2 separate regions of the Homo sapiens genome follow, and region 1 is linked to region 2. Evidence: fine-mapped expression QTL. A gene starts in region 2. The other region holds a variant in brackets. All regions are shown on one strand. Distances are between the middles of the regions.

Region 1 (14,917 bases), 160 kb before region 2:
TGGGAGGATCATTTGAGGTCAGGAGTTGGAGACCAGCCTGGCCAACATGGTGAAACCCCCGTCTCTGCAAAAACATAAAAATTAGCCAGGTGTGGAAGTGGGTACCTGTAATTCCAGCTACTACAGAGGCTGAGGCACAAGAATCGCTTGAACCTGGGAGGCAGAGGTTGCAGTGAGCTAAGATCACACCACTGCACTTCAGTCTGGGTGACAGAGTGAGACTTTGTCTCAAAAAATAAATAGGCTGGGTGCGGTGGCTCATGCCTGTAATCCCAATACCTTGGAAGGCTGAGGTGGGTGGATCACCTGAGGTCAGGAGTTCGAGACCACCCTGACCAATATGGTGAAACCCCATCTCTACTAAAAATACAAAAATTAGCCAGACGTGGTGACGTGCACCTGTAGTCCCAGGTACTTCAGAGGCTTGAACTCGGGAGGTGGAGGTTGCAGCGAGCCGAGATCACACCACTGCACTCCAGCCTGGGTGACAGAGCAAGACTCCATCTCCAAAAATTAAAAATTAGAAAATTTTAAAAAATAAATAATTTAAAAAATTTTAAAAGAGACAAGGCCTTGCTCTCTTGCCCAGGCTGGAGGGCAGTGGTGCAATCATAGCTCACTGCAGCCTCAACCTTCTCCGCTCAAGCCATCCTCCCACCTCAGCCTCCCGAATAGCTGAAACTTCGGGCGTGCACTACCACACTTGGCTAATTTATTTTATTTTATTTTTGTAGAGATGATGTCTCCCTATGTTGCCCAGGCTGGTCTTGAACTCCTGGCTTCAAGTGATCTTCCTGCCTTGGCCTCCCAAAGCACTGGGATTGCAAGTGTGAACCACCACGCCCAGCCGGGACTCACATTTCTTGAGACACAGTTGTGTAGTGGGCCTTCTCATAGTCATTTTCTCATTCGGTCTTTGCAATAACAACATCGTGGCAAGGTAGGTATCAGCCCTCTTCGCAAGTAAAGAAACAAGTCCGGCCGGGCACGGTGGCTCACGCCTATAATCCCAGCACTTTGGAAGGCCAAGGTGGGCGGATCACTTGAGGCCAGGAATTCGAGACCAGCCTGGCCAAAATGGTGAAACCCCGTCTCTACTAAAAATACAAAAATTAGCCCGGAGTGGTGGTGGGCGCCTGTAGTCCCAACTACTCGGGAGGCGGAGGTTGCAGTGAGCCGAGACCACGCCTTTGCACTCCAGCCTGGGCGACAGAGCGAGACTCTGTCTCAACAACAATAACAAAAAAAGAAACAAGTGCAAGGTCTTGCCTTTGAGTTGGGGTCAGAGAGGGAAGCCAGGGCTTCTGAGACCGAGGGCCCTGCTATTTGCATTATGGTCCTGTCTCCACGGATGTGGGAGGGAGCTTAGGGTAAGCGGGCCCCATGTTTGGTACCGAGTCATGCCCTGGAGAGCCCACGTGGGCCTCGGTGCAGGGCAGGGCGCTGGTCTCTGGGCACCCGGATCCCCCATGCAGGGACCTAGATGTCTGGGGACTGAGAGAGGGCATAAACCAGCAGAGAACTGACAGGTAGGGCCTGCACGCGCACTCACCCGTGCCTCAGCGCCAGGCGCACGAAGCCTTTGCGCTTCTGGAGCGTAAGGCAGTGCTCCCCGGGGACTGAATACAGGGCCTCGTGCGCACCCCCCACCATGATGACCACGGCCTGCCCGAGCTGGGGCTGGGACAGGATGAAGTCCAGGCTCTGGCGGCTCACCGGACAGAGTCCTGTGGGCAGGAGGAGGTGGAAAGTAGTTCCCATCTGCCTCCACGGCACCCCCGCCCCTCACCCAGCCTTTAGTTCCAAGCCCCCTACCCCCATCTCCAAGGCGGGGAACCTACCCAAATGCTCACTGCAAGTCTGGGCAGTGCTCAGGCTGGCCCCTGTCCTGGGTGGGGGACTTATTATGGGGGGGGGTGGTCCCAGAGGGGCTGGGGAACATCTGGTCAGGAGTCTCCTCCCGTTCTCCTCCTCCCATTCGGCTCACCAAAGGACATGATGTAGTCGCGATAGACCGGGAGGTAGAAGAGGCCAGCCAGCACGGCTAACCAGGGCCGGAGCCCCGGGAAGAGCTGGGAGAAGCCATTGCTCTCGGTGGAGAAATTACAGAGGAAGCCTGTACACATGATCCCATGAGGGTGGGCGCCCAGCACGTAGTTCCGATCCGGGGGCAGCTCTGCTGTTTTCACCAGCTTCGGGGTGTTGAGCAGGATGAAGGGAGGATGGAAGGCAAGACACCGGCTGAAAAGAGGGGCCCTCCACCCCAACAGAGTTCCGAGTTAAAGGTTCTTAGGATAGGGTCAAGGGCCACCCCAGCAGAGTTCCGAGTTAAAGGTTCTTAGGATAGGGTTAAGGGCCCAGGTTTTTTTTTTTTTTTTTTTTGAGATGGAGTCTTGCTCTGTAGCCCAGGCTGAAGTGCAGTGGCACGATCTCGGCTCACTGCAACCTCCGCCTCTTGGTCCCGGTTCAAGCTATCCTCCTGCCTCAGCCTCCCGAGTAGCTGGGATTACAGGCATGCGAAACTATGCCCAGCTAATTTTTGTATTTTTAGTAGAGACGCAGTTTCACCATATTGGCCAGGTTGGTCTTGAACTCCTGACCTCGTGATCTGCCTGCCTTGGCCTCCCACAGTGCTGGGATTACAGGCGTAAGCCACCTCACCCACTCTCTCTTTTTTTCTTTTCTTTTTTTGAGGCAGAGTTTTGCTCCTGTTGCCTAGGCTGGAGTGCAATGGCATCATCTCAGCTCACCACAACCTCCGCCTCCCTGGTTCAAGCAATTCTCCTGCCTCAGCCTCCAGAGTAGCTGGGATTACAGGCATGTGCCACCATGTCCGGCTAATTTGTTTGGTATTTTTAGTAGAGATGGGGTTTCTCCATGTTGGTCAGGCTGGTCTCGAACTCCTGACCTTAGGTGATCCACCCACCTCAGCCTCCCAAAGTGCTGGGATTAAAGGCTTGAGCCACCACAACCGCCTTTTTTTTTTTTTTTTTTTAGAGACGGTCTCACTCTGTTGCTCAGGCTGGAGTACAGTGGCGCAATCATGGCTCACTACAGCCTCCAACTCCTGGGCTCAAGCAATCCTCCCACCTCGGCCTCCCAAAGTGCTTGGATTACAGGCATGAGCCATGGTGCCCCACCAAGGCCCCGCTCTTGAACATCATCCACTCCCAGGCCGGGCGCGGTGGCTCAAGGCTGTAATCCCAGCACTTTGGGAGGCCGAGGTGGCTGGATCACTTGAGGCCAGGAGTTTGAGACCAGCCTGGCCAACATGTTGAAACCCTGTCTCTACTAAACTACAAAAATTAGCCAGGCATGGTGGCGGGCACCTATAATCCCAGCTACTAGGGAGGCTGAGGCATGAGAATAGCTTGAACCTAGGAGGCGGAGGTTGCAATGAGCTGAGATTGCACCACTGCACTCCAGCCTCGGTGACAGGAGACTCAGTCTAAAAAAAAAAAAAAATCCATTCCCTGTCCCACTGCCTGAGCTTAGGCAGCGGGGAGCTCAGGCCCCAGCACAAGGAAGGGCTCCTAGGTGTGGGAGGGAGATGGGGAGAGGTAGGAAGCAGTTTTTCTGCAGGGTGACCCATCACCTTGACAGGATAATAATCCCTTAGTTGTCTCCAAATTGCCCGGTTCCTTATCCACTCCGAACGCCTTCCACCTGCGGACAATGAGATACTGGTGGACGAACCCCCGGAGTCACCTCCCCTCACCCCCCATGTCCCCACCATCTCTGGCTACCTGGGCCCCCATCCGGAGCTCACCTTGGTTGGGTGTGTCCCAGTCCACATAGAGCCACACCAAGTAAAAAACAGAGAAGGGCCAGAGTGACGTGAAGAGGAGGACAAAGACAAGAAGGGAGAAGAAAGGGCCTGGGGGAAGGGAGAGAAAGAAAAGAGTTCACTTCTGAAACTCCATCATTCCCTCCAGCTGCTCCCTTCCCTTCCTCCCCTTCAGAACAACCAGCTCTCTCCTCTGGCCCTCTCCCAGACCAGTCACCTGGTCACTGTCCTCAGGCATGCAAGCCAGCAGCCCAGCCACTCTCCCTCCAAGCCCTACTCCCCTGGCAGACCCCAGGCACCCACGCCTCCCCAGCTCTCACCCATGAAGAGGAAAGTGAGCACATATTGGTAGGCGCCCACTGCTTCTAGATGCTGCTTCTGCAAGGTTTTGGAAGTGGTTGGGGGCTGCAGGGTTGTGGCAACTCCCATTGCAGAAGCTCCCCTCTTCCAGCAGGATCCCAGAACCCGGAGGACAAACGATGAAGGCTTGGATGTGGACCTGGGCAGACTTTCTCCCTACAGGAGCCCAGCTTTGGGGGCCTGGCTAAGTCGCAAATCACCTCCCAGAGTAGCGTGTGTCCGTAGGTGTGTGAGTGGGGAGATCTTTGGATCCAGAGCCCCAGATGTCTCTGGGTTTTTTCTCAGCCTGATCTTTGAACTTCCTGTCAGTCACCAGTCTGGGCTGGCTGCTGGGTGGGGCTGGGAGGCGTAAGGGGTGTGCAAGGGAGAGGTGACACCCGAGTGCCTCAGGAATTGATGTTGGAGTGGACAAGAGTGATCTGGCTAGCCCCACCCACTGGGTCCCAGGTGCTGGAAGGGGCCAGAAGCCCTGCTGAGACTATTTGACCTCCAGTCGGGGTGGGGGCAGGGCCTGGTCCGGGGCATCTCCAGGAATGTCAAGGTCACCACCCCTGCCTGGACCTCCCCCGCCATGCACAAACACACACAGGCTGCAGGTCTGTTTCCCACTTTAATTTTTTTCTTTTTCTTTTCTTTTCTTTTTTTTCTTTTTTTTTCACACGTCTCGGTCACCCAGGCTGGAGAGCAGTGGCACGATCTCGGCTCACTGCAACCTCCGCCTCCCGGGTTCAAACGATTCTCCTGCCTCAGCCTCCCGAGTAGCTAGGATTACAGGCGCGCCACCACGTCTGGCTAATTTTTTTTTTTTTTTTTTTTGGATTTTTAATAGAGATGGGGTTTCACCATGATGGCCAGGCTGGTCTCGAACTCCTGACCTCAAGTGATCCACCCGCCTCGGCCTCCCAAAGTGCTGGAATCACAGGCGTGAGCCACCGTGCCCTGCCGCCAGTCTTTAATTTCACTTCCCCACCTGCAGTCACCCAGCGGACAGGCGAGGCCAGGCGGTGGGGCGCGCCTCCGTGAGGACCAGGTGTCTGTCGGCGGGGACACCATAGCGCGCCTGGTGCTCCTCGAAGAGCTGCGTGAGTCGCCCCACGTAGCGCGCTTGCAGCGTGTCCACCTGGGCCGGACTGGGCGGGGGGCTCTGCTGCACGGGAATCGCCGACCCCACTGCGGGCGGGACGGGAGGCGATCTGGGCTGGGATCCCCGGTTCTCCTCCTCTTTTCCTCCTTGGGGATAGGCGGGAACAGAGTTCAGGGCTGGCGCGGTGGCCAAAGGCCAGTCTGGGTGGCCCCAACCCGGGACGGGGAGGGAGCGGGCCCTGGGCCAGGATCGCGGGGCGGAGGCCGGGGCTCACCTACGGTGCGGATGGGCGCGCGGAAGGGCAGCGGGAGGCCCCGGCGGCCCAGGAACAGCTGCAGGGCCACGCTTAGCAGCGGACGCAGAGCCTCCTGCGTCCTCTGCACCCACGAGCTCTGCGGGTTCGGGAACTGCTGGAAGAGCTCATTCTCCCTGGAGAAGACAGGCACTAGGGAGGCCGCAGGAGAGCATGGCGCGGCTGACTCCTGGCCCCGGGGTCCGCGGGTGGCGCCACTCTCCTCCTCCCCGGCCCGGCAGCCCTGGGGCGTCCCCACCGGGTCACGCTCGGGTCCTCACCCGAGTTCCAGAGCTGACTTAACCAATCTCTTCTGATTCCGAATCGGCAAGCTCAGTTGTCCGGGTTTTGCCTCCAGCGCCTGCAGGGGCCCTCCCACGCCAGGACAGCCACCTGGCCACCACTGAGGCAGCGGGGCCTTGACAAAGGAGACCAAACCTGGGGGGAGGGCAGAAGCTGGGGGACCCAACGCCTGGGTCTTATTTACTTATTTATTTAGGGACGGAGTCTTGCTCTGTTGCCCAGGCTGGAGTACAGTGGCCTGATCTTGGTTCACTGCATCCTTGACCTTCAGGGCTCAAGTGACCCTCCCACCTCAAGCCTCCCAGTAGCTGGGACCACAGGTGTGTACCACCACACCTGGCTAAATTTTTGTTTTTGTTTTTTCTTGTGTAGAGATGGGGTTTCACTGTGTTGCCCAGGCTGGTCTTGAACTCCTGGCCTTAAGCGATCCTCTCGCCTGCGCCTCCCAAGTGCTGGGATTACAGGTGTGAACCACCGCACCCAGCCAAAGCCTGGGACTTGGAAAGAAGAGTGGAGAGGACATGGGGAAAGGAGAGCTGGGCCCCAGTGTCCCCTGGGAAGAGGATGGTGGGGCGGGAGACAGCAGCAAGGTCCTCCTCTTCTCACCACCTGACATGATGTAGTCCTGGAAGAAGAGGAGATGGAACCAACAAGGCAGCATGAGCAGGTGTGGCGGGAGTTTGGGGAAGAGGCAGGAGCAGCCCGTGGGCTCTGTGCAGAAGTTGGCGAAGGCTCCCACGACCAGGACCCTGTGAGGGTGGAAGTCAAAGAGGTAGTTCCAGGAGGTGCCCAACTTTGCAGTTTTAACTAGCTGGGGAGCAGACGGGCGCACCCCACCCCAACGGTGAGATTGCACTTTGGGAGATGGTGGTCCCAAGAGTCTATTCTGAAGCCCCAACCGCACCCAGCACCCCACAGCCCAGGTCCTCACTGAGAGGGGGAAGTAGTCACAGAAATGTCTCAAACTGCCCAGTTGCAAACCCAGGCAGATCTGCGGGCTCCAGCCCTGGGTATGTTTCTATCCCAATAGAGCCAGACCAGGTAGAGGACCGCCAGCATCCAAGCCCAGCCGAGGAATGCAAGAGCCAGGCTGCCAGGTGCACCTGGGCTGGAAGATGGGGCAGGGGGAGCTCACAGTACAGGTGTTTAAGACCATTCAGTTGTTGCTCCTACCCATCCAGTGGCCTGAGTGGTGGGAGCTGCAGACCAGTCTTCTGTGGCAGGCTGAATGCTCCAGTCTTCAGTAGGGAACTGCTAGATAGCACAGAGGGCACCTGCACGCCTTCAGACCAGTCTGCAACCTCAGGTTGAGTAGCAGTGAACTCAGGAGCCGGAGCAGTCCATTCACCCTGAAATTCCTCCTTGTCACAGCCTTTTCAGCAGCAGCCTGCTCTTCTTTTTCAATGTCTTCATGATCTCTGTAGAAGTAGAGATCAGGCATGACCTCCCACGGGTGTTCACAGGAAATGGTGCCACGCATGCGCAGAACTTCCCGAGCCAGCATCCACCACATCAGACCCACTGAGTGAGCTCCCTTGTTGTTGCTTGGGATGGCAATGTCCACATGGCGCAGAGGAGAATCTGTGAGACACAGAGCAAGGTAGGTAGGTTAACATAAGATGCCTCTGTGAGAGGCTGCTGATCAGCCCTGGGGTCAGTAAACACAAGAAGCCGTGGCTCCCGGAAGGCTGCCTGGATCTGGTTAGTGAAGGTTCCAGGAGTGAAGCGGCCAGCGATTGGAGTGGCTCCAGTGGCAGCAGCAAACTTCAGCACGGCCCTCTGGCCAGTATTTCTGGAGGGTATGACACTGACATCAGCGGGGTTTTCAATGGCAACAATGCCACGAGCTGCCAGCAGAAGCTTCTCCCAGGTCCTCTTCAGATTTGGGATGTAGATGCCATCACTTTTCCTTTTATACATGTACTGTTCCATCTGTAAGTCAAGGTTGGTGCCACCTAATTGGTTTCCTGCTGCAAGGAAATTAAGGACATCTTCCTCCTTCATTTGCAGGACATCAAGGGCTCCGGATGTTGTGAAAGTTTCTCTTTAAGTTACAACAGGAATCCAGAACAACGCCGGATGGAGCCCTCTGTGGGTAGCGTGGAAAGCTTTTTTTGTTTTGTTTTTTTGTTTTGAGACGAAGTCTTGCTCTGTCACCCAGGCTGGAGTACCGTGGCACGATCTTGGCTCACTGCAGCCTCCGTCTCCTAGGTTCAAGCAATTCTCCTGCCTCAGCCTCCTGAGTAGCTGGGATTACAGGCCTGTGCCACCACACCTGGCTAATTTTTGTATTTTTAGTAGAGACAGGGTTTCACCATGTTGGCCAGGCTGGTCTCAAACTCCTGACCTCAAGTGATCTGCCTGCCTGCCTCGGCCTCCCAAAGTGCTAGGATTACAGGCGTGAGCCACTGAGCCCGGCTTATTTATTTTTTTGAGTTGGAGTTTCA[T/C]TCTTGCTGCCCAGGCTGGAGTGTGATGGCGCGATCTCAGCTCACTGCAACCTCCCCCTCCCAGGTTCAAGCAATTATCCTGCCTCAGCCTCCCAAGTAGCCGGGATTACAGGCGCCCGCCACCATGCCCAGCTAATTTTTGTATTTTTTAGTAGAGATGCGGTTTCACCATTTTGGCCTGGCTGGTCTTGAACTCCTCACCTCGTGATCTGTCCGCCTCAGCCTCCCAAAGTGCTGGGATTACAGGCATGGGCCACCGTGCCCAGCTTAATTATGTATTTTTTAAGTAGAGACAGGGTTTCACCATGTTGGCCAGGGTGGTCTCAAACTCCCAACTTCAGGTGATCCATCCACCTCAGCCTCCCAAAGTGCTGGAATTACAGGCGTGAGCCATCGCGCCCAGCTAATTTATTTTTTGTAGAGATGGGGGGGGTCTCGCTATGTTGTCCAGGCTGGTCTTGAACTCCTGGCCTCCAGTGATCCTCCGCCTGCCTTGGCCTCTGAAAGTACTGGGATTATAGGTGTGAGCCACTGTGCCCAGCCTGGGAAGTCCCTCTTTTGGTCTGTGCCCTCTCATGCACTTTTTTTTTTTTTGAGATGGAGTCTCACTCTGTGGCCCAGGCTGGAGTGCCGGGGCACAATCTCAGCTCACTGCAAGCTCTGCCTCCCGGGTTCATGTCATTCTCCTGCCTCAGCCTCCTGATTAGCTGGGACTACAGATGCCCGCCACCACGCCTGGATAATTTTTTGTATTTTTAGTAGAGACGGGGTTTCACCGTGTTAGCCAGGATGGTCTGGATCTCCTGACCTCGTGATCCGCCCCCCTTGGCCTCCCAAAGTGTTGGGATTACAGGCGTGAGCCACCGCGCCCGGCCCCTCTCACACACTGTCTCCAGCTCAGGCAATACAGGGGAAGGGGAAAGTGGGAGCCAGGGAAGCTCCCAGGTTCCCACGAGGGTCTAACATTCTGCCTCTCCCTTTTCCTCTTGTCTTCGCTTTTCTGGGTCTCTCCCCTCTACGCTGCTGGCAGGAGGGGAGATGGGGTTAATGGGCAGACCAATGGACTCAAGACTTACAAACTGTCCTTTATTCAGAGTGAGACTGCGGAACATTAATAATTTATCACGCGGGGAGTCCCCAGAAGCCCTGTGCCCACGAACCCCTGTGGGCGGAGGAGAGAGGCGGGGACTCCGGGAGCTTCCTGAGAGGGCCGTGTCTTGGGAGCAAGGTGACATATTCAGTTCAGGCACGCGGAACATGAACTCAGGAAGTGGGGAGACAGAGAGACCCATCCCCCAACTCCCAGGACGGGGGCCAGGCCCCCTAAAAAGGCACAATGGCAGGGCAGGTTTGGCAGAGTGGTTGAGTGTCAGGGGTCGACAAAGGACACCATGATGTAGCGTGTGCCCCAGGTCGTTGGCAGCCCCTCGTGGTAGTGGGTGAGGCGGCCGGGGTGCAGGAGTGCCCAGCCCTTCCTCGGGGAGGAGATCACACAGTCGTAGCGCAGGAAGCGGCAGCCACCTCCCTGGAAAGAGAAGGGAAAGGAAACATGGAGTGAGCAGACGTGGGGCCTGGGGAGCAGGCAGATACACGGGGCAGGGCGGCCAGACCGGGGGGCACGGTGCAGCAGACCGGGGTGACAAGGGAGATGGCAGATATGGCAGACACCGGAGGCTGGGGTGCCTGCAGACAGGAAGATCCAGGAGGAAGCAGAGGCCGCCTGCCCAGAAGCGATCCAGGAGCTGATACCCACAAAGTCACTGGGAAATGGGCAGGGAGGGGAGCTGGGGGATGCACGCAGGGGCTCTAGGTGGGGACCCGAGGGTCCTGAGGTGAAGCGTGGGTGGGTAGTGTGACTGGGGCGCACCTCATAGTCCAGGCCCTTGTGGTTGAGGGCAACGTTGAGGGTGAAGGTGGATGAGTCGTGGTGTGGCCGCAGAGACGGCTGCTCGTCTGGCCGGTAGCGAACCACAAAGTTCATCACCGCCCGCGCCTGGGGGAGAGGAGGGAAGAGGCTGCAGGGACAGCTGCGGGCGCAGGGGGTCTTTTATTTTGTATTATTATTATTCTTTTGAGATAGTCTCGCTCTGTCACTCAGGCTGGAGTGCAGTGGTGCGATCTTGGCTCGATCTTGGCTCACTGCAACCTCTGCCTCCCGGTTTCAAGCAATTCTCATGCCTCAGCCTCCCGAGTAGCTGGGATTATAGGCACCTGCCACCACACCCGGCTAATTTTTGTATTTTTAGTAGAGACGAGGTTTCACCATCTTGGCCAGGCTGGTCTTGAACTCCTGACCTCAGGTGATCCACCCACCTCAGCCTCGCAAAGTGCTGGGATTACATGTGTGAGCCACCACGCCCGGCCATCGCAGGGTGTCTTCAGGGAGATGACGGTCCCTGTCCAGGGAGGGGAGGGGAGGGGCGGCGGGACCCCTGCGTAGGAGGCTCTCGCTGCTCACTGGCATTAAATTAGGGCCAAGCCTCACCTTGGGTCTCAGCCTGGCGCCCTCCCTCCCCTGGGGTGCCTCCTGCAGCGTCTCATTCCCCTGGGAACTAAAATGCATGGAGCCCAAATGCTGCCGGGGCCGAAAGGGGTCTGCGTGGAGACTTCCTGTCCGGGACTGGGGTGGGGAAGGTGGGGAGGCAGCTGGCAGGTGGGCAGCGCACCTTGGTGTGGTAACCGGGAAACAGGCTCTCGGTCATGGGGCCCACATACGTCCGCAGCAGCTGCAGCCACTGGTCCTCGTACCCCACCTGCTTCATGTGGATGTCCACGGTGGGCACATTCTCGTAGCCTCCAGCCAGCCTTGAATCCTGGGGGCGGCGGGCACTGAGCCACCCGCCCCTCCAGCCATGGCGCTCCCCACCCCAGGGCAGTCCAGCCTCCTTCCTCCCGTCCTCCAGCCTTCACACCTGTGTTCCTCTGTGCAGAACAGTCTTCTTTGCTACTTCTCGGCCTGACTCACTGCTCCCGGCCCTTCAAGTCTCAGCTAAGATGTCACCTGTCCTGTGAAGCTCCCTACTCCTCCCAAGTCTGGGTCAAGGCTTCCCCGTGGCTTCTATTGCACCCAGGCTGCTCATCGCAGCCTTAGAAGCTGTGTGGTGGCTGCTGCTCACAGCAGGGCAGAGCTCGACCGGCATGAGGCATTCCTGCAGTGCAGTCTAGGACAGTGGCCCAGGAATGATTTCCTTTTCTCTTTTTTTAGAGACAGAGTCTTGCTCTGTCACCCAGGCTGGAGTACTGCGGCATGATCATAGCTCACTGCAGCCTCTAACTCTGGGGCTCAAGTGATCCTTCTGCCTCAGCCTCCTGAATAGCTGGGACATGCCACCATGCCCGGCTAATTTGTTGGTTTTTCTGAGATGGAGTTTCACTCTTGTTGCCCAGCCTGGAGTTCAATCTTGGCTCACTGCAACCTCTGCCTCCCGGGTTCAAGCAATTCTACCTCAGCTCCCGAGTAGCTGGGACTACAGGCGCCCGCCACCATGCCCGGCTAATTTTGTGTTTTTAGTAGAGATGGGGTTTCTCCATGTTGGTCAGGCTGGTCTCGAACTCCTGACCCCAGGTGATCCACCTGCCTCGGCCTCCCAAAGTGCTGGGATTACAGGCGTGAGCCACCGCACCTGGCCCAAACTCGGCTAATTTTTAAATTTTTTGTAGAGACAGGGTCTCGCTATGTTGCCCAGGCTGGCCTCAAACTCCCCCTGCTCGAGCAATCCTCCCGCCTCAGCCTCCCAAAGTGCTAGGATTACAGGCATGAGCCACTGTGCCCAGCAGTAAATATTTCTTGAATACATGAATGAATGCAGTTGTGACCCCAGGGTCTGCCTCCCCCCTGGGAACCCCTCTTTGCTCCCATTTTCCTGATTCCATTGTTTGTTTACCAGATCCTGCACCTCCTCCTCTGGGAAGGCCTCTGCCCTCCTCGCCCAGGCCCTTACCTCATGCCGGCCGCCTGACCACTGGCCGTAGTGCTCCATCTCTGCCACCAGCTCATCACACATTTGTTCTGACAGCAGTGGGAACCAGTACACGTCCGGGCATGGCTGAGGATGGGGCGAGGGAGAACAGGGCTAGCTGACGCCGCAGAACGGGGAAGGGGACAGGCAGCAGGCAGAATGGGAAGGGGCAGGGAGGAGCAGGGAAGGCTTTGTGAGAGCAGCCGGGGACCCGCCAGGTAGGGGCTGAGGGAGTGGCAAGGCTGAGGACCGGTTTCTGGCACAGGAGAGGTGGCAGAGGGTCCTGGAGCCCCTCGTGCTGGGACAGTGGTTTCCAAACTTCCGTAACAGTGCATACCTCTTTTTTTTTTTTTTGAGATAGGGTATTGCTCTGTCAACCAGGCTGGAGTGCAGTGGCACAATCATAGCTCACTACAGCCTCGACCTTCTGGGCTCAAGCGATCCTCCCGCCTCAGACTCCCAAGTAGCTGGAACTACAGGCACATGCCACCATGCCAAGCTAATTTTTTCTTTTCTTTTTTTTTTGAGACAGGGTCTCGCTGTGTCACCCAAGGTGGAGTGCAGTGGCGTGATCTTGGCTCACTGCAACCTCTGCCTCCCAGGTTCAAGCGATTCTCCCACCTCAGCCTCCCGAGTAGCTGGGACTACAGGTGCACGCCATCACACCTGACTAATTTTTGTGTTTTTTTTTTTTTTTTTTTTGGTAGAGACAGGATTTGCCATGTTGGCCAGGCTGGTCTCGAACTCCTGACCTCAGGTGATCTGCCTGCCTCGGCCTCTCAATGTACTGGGATTACAAGCATGAGCACCACTCCTGGCCTCATTTCTTATTTAATTTTTTTGTTGTTGTTGTAGAGACAGATTCTCGCTATGTTGCCCAGGCTGGTCTTGGACTTCTGGCCTCAACCGATCCACCCACCTTGGCCTCCCAAAGTGCTGGGATTACAGGCATGAGCCACTGAGCCCAGCCCCATTCTTCTTTTAAGATGTGATTTCAAGCATAACACCAGTATACCCAATATACAGGAGAAGAGGCTGTCTGATCAATGCTGGCTTTGGGGGCAAGAGTCCTTTCTGTTCGGCCTCTGCCTTCATCTTGTCTGAACAGAAAACCCTCAGATCTCTGGGGAACTCAGTGTGAAAACTTTGAATCCAGGCGGGGGCCCCCAAGAGGCGATGGCCATGAGGGCAGGGGGTGGGTGGGGAGGCTGCGTGGGCTCACCTGCTCCACGATTCCTTCCCCTTCCAGGGCCCGGCTGTAGTTCTCGTGGATGTACTGCTCCTTCCAGTCCTGTGAGAGGGTGGGGGGCACATCAGATCTGTGCCCCCCTCGCTCCCAGCCCCCAGGGGACCGCCCCCTCCCACTCAGTGTCCTGCGCTGGCAGCAGCCATCACGTTTGGTGTCTTCCTTAGCACAAGGCGGGGAACCTGTGTGCTCTGGGCGTGGGGTCCCCACTCACGACGGGGTTGTCGAAGATCTGCCAGAGGTCGGGGTGCAGGTGCTCCGTGTCGTATCTGGAAGTGGCCAGGAGCCGGCCAAATTCATGCTGATTGCTCAGATGGAGGAAGATGCCCTGTAGTGGGGTGGGGGTGTCCGTGATGCAGGCGATGCCTGGAGTCTGGGGGACTGCCCCCAGGCCAGACCGTGCACCCGCGCTCACCTTGTCTCGAAAGCTCTTACAGAAGGCCATGTCCGGGTCTGTGTCACTGCCCGAGAACACATCCCTCTGGGGCAGCTCCATCCGCAGGGTATCACCCCGGATCACATAGGCCTGGGAGATGTATGGTACATTCCACACACCCCTGGAGGCACCGACACCGCGGTCAGCTGGGAGGACAGCCCCCCAAATTCTGCCCAGCTCATCCCGGGAAGTCCTTCTTCCCTCAGGGTATCCCAGTCCCTGAACATAAGGCCCCTGCATGTCCCTTGTCAAGCACTGCTGGTCCCAACCACCCCACCTCCCAAAATGCGGTCAGTTCCTACCCCAAGCTGTGGCACTTCTTTTTTGTTTCTTGTTTTTGGTTTTTGAGACGGAGTCTTGCTCTGTCACCCAGGCTGGAATGCAGTGGTGTGATCTTGGCTCACTGCAACCTCCACCTCCCAGGTTCAAGCAATTCTCCCACCTTAGCCTCCCAAATAGCTGGGATTAGAGGTGCCAGCCACCATGCCCGGCTGATTTTTGTATTTTTGGTAGAGATGGGGTTTCACCATGTTGGCCAGGCTGGTCTCGAACTCCTGACCTCGAGTAATCCACCTGCCTCTGCCTTCCAAAGTGCTGGGATTACAGGCGTCAGCCACCGCGGCCGGCCCTTGTTTTTTATTTTCTTGAGAAAGGGTCTCCCTCTGTTTCCAGGCTGGAGTGCAGTGGTGGAAACATGGCTCACTGCAGCCTCAACCTCCCAAGTTCAAGTGATTCTCCCACCTCAGCCTCCGTAGTAGCTGGGACCACAGGCACGCACCACCGTGCCCAGCTAATATTTTAAGTTTTTTGTAGAGATAGGCTCTTGCTACGTTGCTCAGGCTGATCTTAAACTCCCAGGCTCAAGCAGTCCTCCTACCTCAGCCTCCCAAAGTGGTGGCATCAAAAGTGTGAGCCACTGCAGCCAGCCTCATGGCACCTCTGACTGGTGACCACTCCAAACCCCTGAGAGTAGGGGGCTTGGGTCTACCTGGGCCCCGGGTCG
Region 2 (14,917 bases):
TGGCTGGGCACGGTGGCTGATGCCTGTAATCCCAGCACTTTGGGACGCTGAGGTGGGTGGATCATTTGAGATTAGGAGTTTGAGACCAACCTGTCCAACATGGTGAAACCCCGTGTCTACTAAAAATACAAAAATTACCTGGGCGTCGGGGTGGGCACTATAATCTCAGCTACTCCAGAGGCTGAGGCAGGAGAATTGCTTGAATCTCAGCTACTTGGGAGGTTGAGGCAGGAGAATTGGTTGAACCCAGGAGGCAGAGGTTGCAGTGAGCCGAGATTAGACCACTACACTACCAGGGCTTCAAAGCCAGACTCCGTCTCAAAAAAAAAAGTAAAAATATAAAATGAAATAAAAATAAAAAAGGGAACCTCATCTCGTATGCATCTGTGCAGTCTGCCAGCTATCTTTTTTTTTTTTGAGACGGAGTTTTGCTCTGTCGCCCAGGCTGGAGTGCAGTGGCGAGATCTCGGCTCACTGCAACCTCTGCCTCCCGGGTTCATGCGATTCTCCTGCCTCAGCCTTCCGAGTAGCTGGGACTACAGGCGTGCGCCATCATGCCCAGCTAATTTTTTTTTATTTTTAGTAGAGACTGGATTTCACTCTGTTGGTGTGGCTGGTCTCGATCTCCTGACCTCAAATGATCCACCCTCCTTGGCCTCCCAAAAGTGCTGGGATTACAGGCGTGAGCCACCACGCCCGGCCGCCAGCTATCTTTTTAATGCCTTCTGAAATAATATTGTAAGCACTTGGAGGGTGGGTACCAGGCTATTTGCATTTTCAACATCCCTTCGCTGCACCCAGCACAGAGACGGGCACATAGAAGTGGCTTGTTATATGCTTACGGGCCAGAATGAACCTATTGTCCTGGACATGAAGAAGAGGACCAGGCATGGTGGCTCACACCTGTAATCCCAACACTTTGGGAAGCCAAAGCGGGTGGATTCCTTGAGGCCAGGAGTTCAAGGCCAGCCTGGGCAACATGCCAAAACCCTATCTCTATTAAAAATATAAAAATCAGCTGGGCTTGGTGGTGCATGCCTGTAGTCCCAGCTACTCGGGAGGCTGAGGTGTGGGAGGAATGATGCTCAGGAGGTCGAGGTGCAGTGAGCTGAGATGGCACCACTGCACTCCAGCCTGGGAGACAGAGGCACGGTTTAAAAAAGATGAAACTCAGATGACTGTCTTATTCCTGCAGTTTCTGGGATGTATTCATGCTTGTCCTAAAGACTTTCATCCTAGGCTGGGCACAGTGGCTCACGTCTGTAATCTCAGCACTTTGGGAGGCTGAGGTGGGCGGATCACCAAAGGTCAGGAGTCCAAGACCAGCCTGGCAAACATGGTGAAACCCTTTCTCTACTAAAAAAAAAAAAAAAAAAAAAAATTAGCTGAGTGTGGTGGCAGACGCCTGTAGTCCCAGTTACTTGGGAGGCTGAGGCAGGAGAATCACTTGAACCCAGGAGGCAGAGGTTGCAGTGAGCTGAGACTATACCACTGCACTCCAGCCTGGGCGATAGAGCGAGATCCAGTCTCAAAAAAAAAAAAAAAAAAAGAGGCTTTTGTCCTAAAATACTCTAGCACTATATGGAGTAATGTTATTCCTTTGTCTCCCTGTTTCTCCATGGTCACTCTAGCTTGGGTGCAGCCCCTGGCACTGGAAAAATGAGTTGAAGATAATAAACGATATTGCTGTTCCCTTACCGTGATGCCCAGCAGCATAAAGCCCGGTTGACAGCAACATGGAATATGGAATTTCTCTGCTCTTTAAGATCTCATTATGCGGGGAAGGTGGAAGGAAGAACGCTTACAAATTCCTGGGGGGGGATGACCTCATCATTTATTAGGTGTTGGCCAACTGCCCAAGGAGCACAGTTCAGATTCTTTTTGGGGGAGGCACTGAACATCCCCTGATAACCTAAATTCTCCAAATCTTTTAGGCCTCAAGGGAGGGAAGGAGGGCGAGAGGAACGAAGCAATTCCATTAGGAGGCTGTTTACTCCTAGATGACCAACTCTGAGTTTAAGACAGAGACTTGGGACTTGGGAAGTATGGACATTCCATTTATTTATTTATTGAGACAGAGTCTTGCTCTGGAGTGCAGTGGCGAGATCTTGGCTCACTGCAACCTCCGCCTTTCAGGTCCAAGTGACTCTCCTGCCTCAGCCTCCTGAGTAGCTGGGAATTACAGGCGCCCGCCACCACGCCCAGCCAATTTTTGTATTTTTTTTTTTTTTTTTTTTAATTTTTATTTTTTTTATTGATCATTCTTGGGTGTTTCTCGCAGAGGGGGATTTGGCAGGGTCATAGGACAATAGTGGAGGGAAGGTTGGCAGATAAACAAGTGAACAAAGGTCTCTGGTTTTCCTAGGCAGAGGACCCTGCGGCCTTCCGCAGTGTTTGTGTCCCTGGGTACTTGAGATTAGGGAGTGGTGATGATTCTTAACGAGCATGCTGCCTTCAAGCATCTGTTTAACAAAGCACATCTTGCACCGCCCTTAATCCATTTAACCCTGAGTGGACACAGCACATGTTTCAGAGAGCACAGGGTTGGGGGTAAGGTCACAGATCAACAGGATCCCAAGGCAGAAGAATTTATCTTAGTACAGAACAAAATGAAAAGTCTCCCATGTCTACTTCTTTCTACACAGACACGGCAACCATCCGATTTCTCAATCTTTTCCCCACCTTTCCCCCCTTTCTATTCCACAAAACCGCCATTGTCATCCCGGCCCGTTCTCAATGAGCTGTTGGGTACACCTCCCAGACGAGGTGGTGGCTGGGCAGAGGGGCTCCTCACTTCCCAGTAGGGGTGGCCGGGCAGAGGCGCCCCTCACCTCCCGGACGGGGCGGCTGGCCAGGCGGGGGGCTGACCCCCCCACCTCCCTCCCGGACGGGGCGGCTGGCTGGGCAGAGGGGCTCCTCACTTCCCAGTAGGGGCAGCTGGGCAGAGGCGCCCCTCACCTCCCGGACAGGGCGGCTGGCCGGGCTGGGGGCTGACCCCCCCACCTCCCTCCCGGACGGGGCGGCTGGCCGGGCGGGGGGCTGACCCCCCCACCTCCCTCCCGGACGGGGCGGCTGGCTGGGCAGAGGGGCTCCTCACTTCCCAGTAGGGGCGGCCGGGCAGAGGTGCCCCTCACCTCCCGGACGGGGCGGCTGGCCGGGCGGGGGGCTGACCCCCCACCTCCCTCCCGGACGGGTCGGCTGGCCGGGCGGGGGGCTGAGCCCCCCACCTCCCTCCCAGACGGGGTGGCTGGCCTGGCAGAGGGGCTCCTCACTTCCCAGTAGGGGCGGCTGGGCAGAGGCGCCCTCACCTCCCGGACGGGGCGGCTGGCCGGGCGGGGGGCTGACCCCACCTCCCTCCAGACGGGGCGGCTGGACCGGGCGGCTGACCCCCCACCTCCTCCCGACGTGGCTGACACCCCCACCTCCCTCCCGGACGGGGTGGCTGGCCGGGCAGGGGGCTGACCCCCCCACCTCCCTCCCGGACGGGGCAGCTGGCCGGGCGGGGGGCTGACCCCCCCACCTCCCTCCCGGATGGGGCGGCTAGCCGGGCGGTGACCGCCCCCACCTCCCTCCCGGATGGGCTGACCCCCCCACCTCCCTCCGGACGGGGCGGCTGGCCGGGCCGGGGGGCTGACCCCCCCACCTCCCTCCCGGACGGGGCGGCTGCCGGGCGGAGACGCTCCTCACTTCCCAGACGGGGTGGCTGCCGGGCAGAGGGACTCCTCACTTCTCAGACGGGGCGGCTGCCGGGCGGAGGGGCTCCTCACTTCTCAGATGGGGCGGATGCTGGGCGGAGGGTCTCCTCACTTCTCAGACGGGGCGGCTGGGCAGAGACGCTCCTCACCTCCCAGACGGGGTCGCCGCCGGGTAGAGGCGCTCCTCACATCCCAGACGGGGCGGCGGGGCAGAGGCGCTCCCCACATCTCAGACGATGGGCGGCCGGGCAGAGACGCTCCTCACTTCCCAGATGGGATGGCTGCCGGGAAGAGGCGCTCCTCACTTCCTAGATGGGATGGCGGCCGGGCAGAGACGCTCCTCACTTTCCAGACTGGGCAGCCAGGCAGAGGGGCTCCTCACGTCCCAGACGATGGGCAGCCAGGCAGAGACGCTCCTTACTTCCCAGACGGGGTGGTGGCCGGGCAGAGGCTGCAATCTTGGCACTTTGGGAGGCCAAGGCAGGCGGCTGGGAGATGGAGGTTGTAGCGAGCTGAGATCACGCCACTGCACTCCAGCCTGGGCACCATTGAGCACTGAGTGAACCAGACTCCGTCTGCAATCCCGGCACCTCGGGAGGCCAAGGCTGGCGGATCACTCGCGGTTAGGAGCTGGAGACCAGCCCGGCCAACACAGCGAAACCCCGTCTCCACCAAAAAAGTATGAAAACCAGTCAGGCGTGGTGGCGCGCGCCTGCAATTGCAGGCACTCGGCAGGCTGAGGCAGGAGAATCAGGCAGGGAGGTTGCAGTGAGCCGAGATGGCAGCAGTACAGTCCAGCTTCGGCTCAGCATCAGAGGGAGACCGTGGAAAGAGAGGGAGAGGGAGACCGAGAGGAGAGGGGAGAGGGGAGAGGGGAGAGGGAGAGGCAGAGGCAGAGGCAGTACAGTCCAGCTTCGGCTCGGCATCAGAGGGAGACCGTGGAAAGAGAGGGAGAGGGAGACCGAGAGGGAGAGGGGAGAGGGGAGAGGGAGAGGCAGAGGCAGAGGCAGGGGCAGGGGCAGGGGCAGGGGCAGGGGCAGGGGCAGGGCTAGTTATCCAATTTTTGTATTTTTAGTAGAGACGGGGTTTCACCATGTTGGGCAGGCTGGTCTCGAGCTCCTGACCTTGTGATTTACCTGCCTTGGCCTCCCAAAGTGCTGGGATTACAGGCGTGAGCCACCATGCTTGGCCATCTTCCTGTCGTCTTCTAACAACAATCCTACAATCCTTCTTTGAGGGGAGAAGGACAGGCTCAGTATGTAACCCAGGCTGAAGTGTCATGGCACCATCATGGCTCACTGCAGCCTTGAACCCTTAGGCTCAAGCAATCCTCCTGCCTCAGACTCCTGAGTAGCTGGGACTACAGGCACACACCTCCACGCTTTGCTTTTTTTTTTTTTTTGTAGAGATGGGGGGGTCTCACTATGTTGTCCAAGCTGGCCTCGAACTCCTGGCCTTAAGCAATCCTCCCGCCTCAGCCTCCCAAAGCATTAGGTCTTTGTTGTTTTGTTTTTTGAGACGGAGTCTCACTCTGTCCCCCAGGCTGGAGTGCAGTGGCATGATCTCAGCTCACTGCAACCCCGGGTTCAAGCGATTCCCCTGCCTCAGCCTCCTGAGTAGCTGGGATTACAAGTGCATGCCACTACGCCCAGCTAATTTTTTCTATTTTTTTAGTAGAGACAGGGTTTCACCATGTTAGCCAGGCTGGTCTTGAACTCCTGACCTCAAGTAATCTGCCCACCTCAACTTCCCAAAGTGCTGGGATTACAGGCGTGAGCTACTGTGCCCGGCTTCCAAAGGATTAGGATTACTGAAGTGAGCCATTGCCACTGGCCTCTACAATCCTTTTGCAAAATGTGCTCCAGTCCAGCAAACACTTCCATATTTGATGGTTTTTCTCCATCCTGTAGGCATTTTACAGACAGGAGTTTTCAACTGGTCACAGGGGCAGAGCAAGCCTCAGGGCATCTGCACCCTTAGGTTGCTTTTGGAAGAATTAGGAAAAAAGCTCCCAGGCCGGGCTAGGTGGCTCACACCTGTAATCCCAGCACTTTGGGAGGCGGAGGTGGGTGAATCACCTGAGGTCAGGAGTTCGAAACCAGCCTGGCCAACATGGCGAAACCCCGTCTCTACTAAAAATACAAAAATTAACCCGAAATGGTATTGCTTGCCTGTAATCCCAGCTACTCGGGAGGCTGAGGCAGAAGAATCACTTGAACCCGGGAGGCAGAGGTTGCAGTGAGCCGAGATCGCACCACTGCACTCCAGCCTGGGTGACAGAGCGAGACTCCAACTCAAAAAAAAAAAAAAAAGAAAAAGAAAAAAAAAAAAAGGAACAAAATGCTCCTAACCCGGGCGAGTAGAGTACGGGCTGGATTTCTGGTCCCACCTGGGCCTGGAGCAGGGTCCAAGCCCTATGGGAATCCTGCAACATAGAAAAGACCAAAACTTGGGTCCAGGCTGGCCTTGGGCCCAGCATGGGATCTAGGACTCTGCTTTTCTGTTTATAAAAGGTGGGATTGTCCTACATCTTCCTGAAGCCCTTTTCTGGATAGGATGTCTCATGAATCTGTGATTCTAGCTACAACTTTTTTCTTTTTTTGAGATGGAGCCTCACCTTGTCATCCAGGCTGGAGGCCAGTGGCCTGATATTGGCTCACTGCACCCTCCGCCTCCTGAGTTCAAGTGATTGGCTTGCCTCAGCCCAGCCTGTAGTTGAGATTACAGGCACCTGCCACCACACTAGGCTAATTTTTGTATTTTTAGTAGAGACGAGGTTTCACCATGTTGGCCAGGCTGGTCTCGAACTCCTGACCTCAGGTGATCCGCCCACCTCGGCCTCCCAATCTAGCTACAACTTCTCACCCCAACTGACCCTTCCGCCCCTCCCAAAGCTTCTTACCTGGAAGAGACAGCGGGGCAGGTGGGGGCTGGAGGTTAAAGGGGAAGGAGGAGAATCCTGGGAAGCTCTGGTCAGTTTCTCACGGGAACGCAGCGCTTTGATCCAAAGAGCCCTGCACAAGGATCGGAAGACTCGCATTTGTCTGGCTTAACTTTCTCCAGCCTCAGTTTCCACTTCTGAATGGGACCATCGAGGGCAGTGTGGCGAGGATTCACCAACATCGTCCAGGTGAAATTGGCAGACACAGAATGGGCGCTCCGAAAGCATTCGCGGACCCGAAGAAGGTTTGGTTTCAAAGGTTCTAAGGTGTGTAGCGGGGGCCTGGGCGCGAGGTCTGGCTTTCGGGGTGTTAGGCTCCAGGGACCTCCTGCGGAGCTCGCACCCTAGCTCTGCCGCCACTGCCGCCTCCTCGGCCCCGGACCGCCGAGGGTTAACAAAAAAGCCCCACGCCCCCTTTGACGGCTTAGAGCCCACCTCGCCGAATTTGAAAAGGCGGCCCCGGAGAGGCGTGGGCGCCCCCCACACATTTCCAGCTCGCACCCGGGCTCCGACCGCTCGCCCCGCTCCTCTCGCTGTGCTCCCGGCCGGTGCCGCGGGTTCGGTCCGGGCGCCGGTGCGCTCCTGCCGGTCCTCGTGCCCGGGACTCCGGGTCCCCGCGGGCTGCTGCGCACGATGAAGCTGGCCCTGCTCCTGCCCTGGGCGTGTTGCTGCCTCTGCGGGTCGGCGCTGGCCACCGGCTTCCTCTATCCCTTCTCGGCCGCAGCTCTGCAGCAGCACGGCTACCCCGAGCCCGGCGCCGGCTCCCCTGGCAGCGGCTACGCGAGCCGCCGGTGAGTAGCTCGGGGCCGAGGGGCCGGGGGGTGGGGGGAGGGAGCGGACAGCGGGGGCCCTGGCCACTGGGTGGCTGGAGCGAGGCTTGGGGGCTGGAGAGCGGGGCGATCCGGGACTTGGGGGCGCAGGGCAGCGGGGACTGGGGGCTGCAGACACCGGGCAGCTGGAACGAGAGCTGGAGGGGGTTGGGGTGCGGGGCGATTCGGGCCTGGGGGCGCGGGGTGGCGGATGCCAGGGGCAGGGGACACGGGGCAACTGGGACGAAATGGCGGTGGCTGGGGGTTGGGGTCACGGGGGGAAAGACCGAAGGGCCTTGGGTGCAGGGCGATTGGGGGCTGGGGCGCGGGGCGGCGGGGGTTGGGGGCTGCAGACGGGGCAGCTGGAACGAGCGATGGAGGAGGCTGGGGGTTGGGGCCGCGGGGCTGCGGGGCTGCGGGGTTGCGGGGGCTGAAGGTTCGGGTCCGGCTCCGGGGCTGCGGTGGTCTCTGGCCGCGCCCACCCTGTCCCTTCCTTTCTTCGCTTCCCCAACCTTCGCCCCCTCGTTCCGGGCTCCGAGTAGAGGTGGTTCCGACCGCCGTGGCTGGGGCTGGGGCTCTGCCCGGGGCGTTCGGCCGCTCACGTGGCTCTGCCGCTCACCTGCGCGGCTGCGGCTTTGTGTCGCGGAGCAGGTTCTCGGGTGGCCAAGGCCTCGCGTCCCGGGCACCCCTCTCCTATCAGCGGCCCCAGGACACCAGAGGGGTCATTCCCGCCCAGTCTTTGGGGCTGAGGCCGCGGAGGATCCTCGGCTGCGACTCCCCAGCCACCCCGGGACGTGGAACCGGCTGGGATCGGGTGGCTCCGTGGCGGGGTTGGAGAGGGCGCAGGGTCACCGGGCCCGGGCGCCGGGACCCGCCAGGCGTCTCCTTCCTCTCGGCCGGCAGGTGGCGCCATGGCCACCCCCGGGACGCTCAGGGCTGCGGCTCCGGAGCCCGCATTTGAATTTCCCCAGAAAACCATAAGCATGCAAGTAAAAGTTGCCAAACGCCTCGTTTGCATAACTCGCTTGAATTTAGCTTTTCTCATTTAGTGATAACTACAACCTACACAGCTATGACAGCGCTCTGGAATGCACTACCTGTGTCTGTTCCCTCCGTCTCTTTTTTATATTTTAATTTTTTTTTTTTGCAGAGGCAGAATCTCAACTCTGTTGCCCAGGCTTGTCGCAAACTCCTGGGCTCAAGCGATCCTCCCGCCTTGGCCTCCCAATCTCCATTTCTTTTGATCCTTAACAACCCTAGGGTTAAAACATTAGAGTAGTATCTTTCCTTTAGCTGAAGAAACAGAGGCTCAGGATTTGCTAGGCCTAGGAGCCACTCAGGACTGACCTCTTGTGCTTTCTTTCTTTTTTTTTTTTTTTTAATATAGGGTCTTGCTTGCTCCCCAGGCTGGAATGCAGTGGTGCGATCATAGCTCACTGCAAACCTGATCTCCCAGGCTCAAGTGATCCCCCGACCTTGGCCTCCTGTGTAGCTGAGATCACAGGTGTACACCATCATGACTGGCTAATTTTTTGATTTTTTGTAGAGGTGGGATCTCACTGTGTTACACATGCTGGTCTCAAACTTCTGGCCTCAAGAGATCCTCCTGCCTCGGCCTCCCAAAATGCTGGGATTACAGGCGTGAGCCACCACGCCAGGCCCAGATCTGGTGTTTTCTAGCATACTGCTCTGCCTATCAAAGCTAAAAGACAGCTCCTAGTTCTTTTTTTCTCCTTGATATTTACCAAATCAGAGGACTCCAAGATGATTTCTGGCTAATTCCTTAATAACAAGGAGACAGGGATGTTTCATGCTGGGAAGAAATATACAGTCATGGCTGAATAGGGCGGGACCCAGAAAAGCATAAAAGTGCCTCTGGAAAAGTTTGTATGCAATCCTATTTCTCTCATTTTGTTTGGAAATACTTACCCGGGGCTTCTATGAGGAGCATTCTCCAAACACCCACGCTAGTGTGGCCTCTGCACAGTTCCATATGAGGATTGTCTAAAAAACAAGCTTTTCAAGTTACAGAATAATATATACAGCACGATTTCATTTATGAAAAGGAAAATCAGATCTACATCTAGGTAGATAAATGCCTGAAAAAAGTTTCTAGGAAACCATTTCAGCAGTTAATGTTATGAAGAAGTCTAGGGCTGGGCCAGGGGACTGTCCCATTTTCCCTCTGTCTGCTTGTGGCTTGTCTGAATGTTTTTCTGGTTTCTGTGTTTTTTTTGAGACAGAGTCTCGCTCTGTCTCCCAGGCTGGAGTGCAATGGTGCAATCTTGGCTTACTGCAACCTCTGCCTCCCAAGTTCAAGTGATTCTCCTGCCTCAGCCTCCCAAGTAGCTGGGATTACAGGTGCCCACCACTGCGCCTGGCTAATTTTTGTATTGTTGGCCAATAAAAAATGTAACGTTGGCCAGGCTGGTCTCAAACTCCTGGCCTCAAATGATCTGCCTGCCTCAGCCTCCCGAAGTGCTGGGATCACAGGCATGAGCCACTGTGCTTGGTCCCTAAGAGAACCTACTGGCCGGTACGGGGATTGAATGGATGTTTTGCAAGGAGCGTATATTCATGTAATACTTTTGTAATTAAAAGGTGTGGGAAGGAAAAAAAAAAAGGTGTTTGCAGCCTGAAATACGCCTGCAAAAAAGCAAGAGGTGAGGACCATGAAGAGCGGGAGCGAATGGGGACCTCATTCTGGCATTTGGTGGGTTGGAACTTGGGGACATCTGCAGAAACTTGGAAGGGATCATTTTAGCACAAACAAAAAGAGGCTCAAACAAGTGTGGAATCTTCCAGAACTCTTTCCACCAGGATAAGAACAGGGAGAGGATATAATTAGGTTTAGGGAGGATGTGGATGAATCTGTGGGCAATGGATTCCTAAAAAGGATACCAGAAGGTGTTGGGGAGGCTTGGGGCACATTGATATTCCAGAGTGTGACTGAGTCTCTTTGCCCAGAAAGCCCAGCGTGGGCATTGCAGGCACCTGGTTGTTGCCTGGGTGAGTTACAGGCTGGAGCTGGCTTGGGCGTCACATGTTTCTGTGTCTCATGAGCTATCTATCACAAGTGTCCCTTGTCCTTGAGATCCAAGATGTCCAGAAGCTGAAGGCTTGGGGACAGCAGTGGTCCTTGCAGCCTTGGCCTTCAGTAGTGTGTTTACCGGGGCTTGGCTTCAGTTGACAGGCAATGATGACAGGGCTGTTTCTTGACAAAGAGTGCTTTAATTTCATTGTTACTGCTCCTTGTTAACGTCTGATTTTTTTTTTTTTTTTTTTTTTTTTTTTTTTTTTTTTTTTTTTAAAGACAGGGTCTTGCTCTGTCACCCAGGCAGGAGCGTAATGGTGCAATCATAGCTCACTGCAGCCTCGACCTCCTGGGTTCAAGCAATCCTCCCACCTCAGCCTCCTAAGTAGTTGGGACCATAGGCATGGGCCACCATGGCTGGCTAACTTTTAAATTTTTCATAGAGGTGGGGTCCTGCTATGTTGCCCAGGGTGGTCTTGAACTCCTGGCTTCAAGTAATCCTTCAGCTTTGGCCTCCCGAAGTGTTGGAATTACAGGTGTGAGCCACTGTGCCTGGCCAAAAAGCAGTTTTTAATTGTTAGTTTGTTCAAATCAGGATCTAAATAAGTCTGCTTATTGGTTATTCTGTCTTTTCTCTCCCTTTTAGTGTAGGAAAGTCTTCCCCCTTTGAGAGAGTACTTTTTCCTCCACGCTGTTGACTTGTTGAAGACCAGTTGTTCTCTGCGATGTCCACGTACTAGATTTAGCTATTTCCTTCCCAGTGGTGTAGTTAACTTGATCTGCAATGTCCACGTACTAGTTTTGACTAATTGCTTCCCAGTGGTGTAATTAATTGGATCCTCTGCCCCCTGTATCTCTTCTATTTTGGAAGTTAGGTTGGAAGGTTTGATTAGATTTATGGTCTCTATTTGGGCTTGCTGGGAGAGACAGAAATTCTTCATAGGTGGTCTAGTCTACCATATTATATCAGGAGATGCTCTGGACTGATGTGTGTGTCCCCACCAAATTCATATGTTGAAGCCCTATCCTCCAATGTGGTGGTATTTGGAGGGGGGACCTTTGGAGGTAACTAGATTTAGATGAAGTTGTGAGGGCTGTGCCCCATTATTTGATTAGGGATGTTATAAGAACAGGAAGAGAGGCCAGGTGCGGTGGCTCATGCCTGTAATCTCAGCACTTTGGGAGGCCCAGGTGGGTGGATCACCTGAGGTCAGGAGTTTGAGACCAGTCTGGCCAACATGGTGAAAACCCGTGTCTACTAAAAATACAAAAATTAGCCGGGCGTGGTGGTGCACACCGGTAGTCCCAGCTACTTGGGAGGCTGAGGCACTAAAATCGCTTAAGCCCGGGAGGCGGAGGGTACAATGAGCTGAGATCATGCCACTGCACTCCAGCCTGGGCAACAGAGTGAGACTCTGTCTCAAAAAAGAAAAAAAAAAAAAAAAAGAAGAAGAGAAATCAGAGCTCTCTCTCTTTGCCATGTGAGGACACAGCACAGCAAGAAGGTGGCTGTCTGCAAACCAGAAAGAGAACCCTCACCAGGAACTGAATCTGCCAGCACCTTGATCTTAGACTTCCCAGCCTCCAGGGCTATGAGAAATAAATGTCTGCTACTTAAGCCATTCAGTCTGTGGTATTCTGTTACGGCAACCTTGAGCTGACTAACAGAAGGATGTGGCTTTATTCTGGAAAGCTGGGTGTTAAATATTCAGCAGAACACCACTGTCTACAAGTCTCCTCCACTGTCTCCCTTCTTTTTGTTGCAATTTATTTGTTGAAGAAACTTGGCCTTCTAGATTGTTCCTTTTTCAGGATTTTGTTGGTTATATGCTCATGGTGCCTGTGAACATGTTCATCTGTCCTCTTTATTTCCAGATAATGGGAAATTAGATCAAGAGCTTGGTTGGATCTAGTTCTTCCTCCTCCTTCGTTTTCTATTTTGGCAGAATTACATCTTGGGTGCTGTAGTGTTTTTCCATTGGAAATCACAACGTCTGGTTGTCTCTCTTTTTCTCTCGTGATGCTTGAGGTGTTGGTGATCATTGCGTATGTCATTCTTTCATTAAGGATCGCAAAGTGGATGCAAGACAGGCAGGCCCCCAAATTGGGGCTTAGCCAGGAGGGTTCTTGGCTTCACCCAGGAAAGAATTCAAGGGTGAGTGGGTGGTTTCAGACAGCAACTTTAATTGATGTGGCAGTGTACAGCTGCAGCAGAGGTCCTGCTCCTTGCAGAGCAGGGATACCCCATAGGCAGTGTGCCCAGACTAGCAGCTCAGAGGCAGTTTGGCACTATTTATACTTACTTTTAACTATATGCAAATTAAGGGGCAGTTTATGCAGGAATTTCTAGGATGAAGGTGGTAACTTCTAGGTTGTTGGGTTGTTGCCATGGAAAGGCATGGTAACTTCCGGGTGTTGCCCTGGCAAATGGTAACTGACATGGTGCCCTGGTGAGTGAGTCTTATGGGGATGTGCTTCGTCCTAACCTGTTTTAGCTAGTCCTCAATTTGGTCCGGTGTCAACCCCAACCTCCAGAGTCAAGTCCCGCCTCCTACTTCAAAGTAGTACTATAATTTTGACTCTTTTTAAAATTCGTAATTGCTAGAATACTTATAATTTCCCCCTTATTTACTATTTGTAGGTAGAAAAAACTCACTCAAAATCTGGCTCTTTCCAAAAAAAAAAATTCTTTTTGCAAATGTAAGCAATTTGTGTGTGTATGTGTGTGTGTGAGCGTAACAGTGTGTATGAGTATGTGTGTGTTTGTGTCTGTATCCTCCTCCTTTTCTTACACAGAGGTAATATGCTAGTTACTCTGTCTTCAACTTGGCCTTTTTCCATCATAACGTGTTGTGGAGATGGCTCTATCAAAAAGCAAAGATGGGGGGGCATGATGACTCACGCCTGTCATCCCAGCACTTTGGGAGGCCAAGGTGGGTGGATCGCTTGAGGTCAGGAGTTCGAGACCAGCCTGGCCAACATGGTGAAACCCCTTCTCTACTAAGAATACAAAAATTAGCTGGGCATGGTGGCGCATGCCTGTAATCCCAGCTACTTAGGAGGCTGAGGCAGGAGAATTGCTTGAACCCAGGAGGTGGAGGTTGCAGTGAGCTGAGATCACGTCACTGCACTCCAGCCTGGGTGACAGAGCAAGACTCAGTCTTAAATAAATAAATAAATAAAGCAAAGGTAATCTGCATCTTTTTTTTTTTTTTTTTTTTTTTGAGACAGAGTCTCGCTCTGTCGCCCAGGCTGGAGTGCAGTGGCGCAATCTCGGCTCACTGCAAGCTCTGCCTCCCGGGTTCAGGCCATTCTCCTGCCTCAGCCTTCTGAGTAGCTGGGACTATAATCACCCGCCACCACACCCGGCTAATATTTTTGTATTTTTTTTTAGTAGAGTTCTGCATCCATTTTTATGGGTCTGTTGTTCTGTACAGTGTGAGTGACTGTATTTATTCAGCTAGTCCTCTACTGATAGACACTTGTGTTGGTAAATGGCAAACACATGTTTAATTCTGCTAGATAGCGTCAAGTTTCCCTCCACTGGGGTTACAGCATTTTGCATTCCCATCAGCAGTTTCTTCTTGGGGTACATTTTGAAGAGTCCATTTTATTTTATTTTATTTATTTGTTTTTTGAGATGGAGTTTCGCTCTTGTTGCCCATGCTGGAGTGCAATGGCATGATCTCGGCTCACCGCAACTTCCGCCTCCCAGGTTCAAGCGATTCTCCTGCTTCAGCCTCCGTAGTAGCTGGGATTACAGGCATGTGCCATCATGCCTGGCTAATTTTGTATTTTTTGTAGAGATGGGTTTCTCCATGTTGGTCAGGCTGGTCTCAAACTCCCGACTTCAGGTGATCCACCCGCCTCAGCCTCCCAAAGTGCTGGGATTACAGGCATGAACCACCGCGCCTGGCCTGAAGAGGACATTTTAAATGATGCTGGTTGATATGGCCTTTCAGGGGTAAGAATAGACTTCCCTGATCTTATAGCACCTGCAAGTCCTGGCCACCCCTAACCTTTTTGGGGCTTGGGGCAAGACTAAAGATGAAGACCATTCACCATTTGGCTAGATATTTAAAAGTATAAAATCAAGCTGACACACTGTTTGTTTTGTTGTTGTTGTTTGTTTTGTTTTTGTTTTTTGAGACGGAGTCTGGCTCTGTTGCCCAGGCTGGAGTGCAGTGGCACGATCTTAGCTCACTGCAACCTCCGCTTCCCAGGTTGAAGCGATTCTCCTGCCTCAGCCTTCCGACTAGCTGGTATTACAGGCATGCACCACCATGCCTGGCTAATTTTTTGTATTTTTAGAAGAGATGGGGTTTTGTCATGTTGGCCAGGCTGGTCTCGAACTCCTGACCTCAGGTTATCTGCCCACCTCATCCTCCCAAAGTGCTGGGATTACAGGCATGAGCCACTGCACCCTGCCCACCTTTCC

What was found.
Region 1: its variant is fine-mapped to the expression of COL26A1 in pancreas (GTEx, PIP above 0.99).

The regions. Positions count from the first base shown.
Region 1 is chr7:101,196,639-101,211,555 of GRCh38, forward strand. MOGAT3 (monoacylglycerol O-acyltransferase 3) reads right to left here and starts at 4,398. Exons shown (of 7, transcript NM_178176.4): 1 at 4,108-4,398; 2 at 3,770-3,877; 3 at 3,596-3,666; 4 at 1,988-2,192; 5 at 1,553-1,727. The coding sequence starts at 4,216. It overlaps PLOD3 (procollagen-lysine,2-oxoglutarate 5-dioxygenase 3), which reads right to left. Exons shown (of 19, transcript NM_001084.5): 13 at 13,894-14,035; 14 at 13,693-13,806; 15 at 13,455-13,523; 16 at 12,215-12,319; 17 at 10,940-11,086; 18 at 10,141-10,266; 19 at 9,346-9,798. The coding sequence ends at 9,643. It also overlaps the pseudogene DGAT2L7P and the pseudogene RPSAP46. RefSeq lists enhancers at 5,550-6,357, 6,358-7,164. The variant T/C (reference allele first, on the strand shown) is at 8,274.
Region 2 is chr7:101,355,764-101,370,680 of GRCh38, forward strand. It overlaps COL26A1 (collagen type XXVI alpha 1 chain), which reads left to right and starts at 7,112. Exons shown (of 13, transcript NM_001278563.3): 1 at 7,112-7,427. The coding sequence starts at 7,270. RefSeq lists a silencer at 8,246-8,485.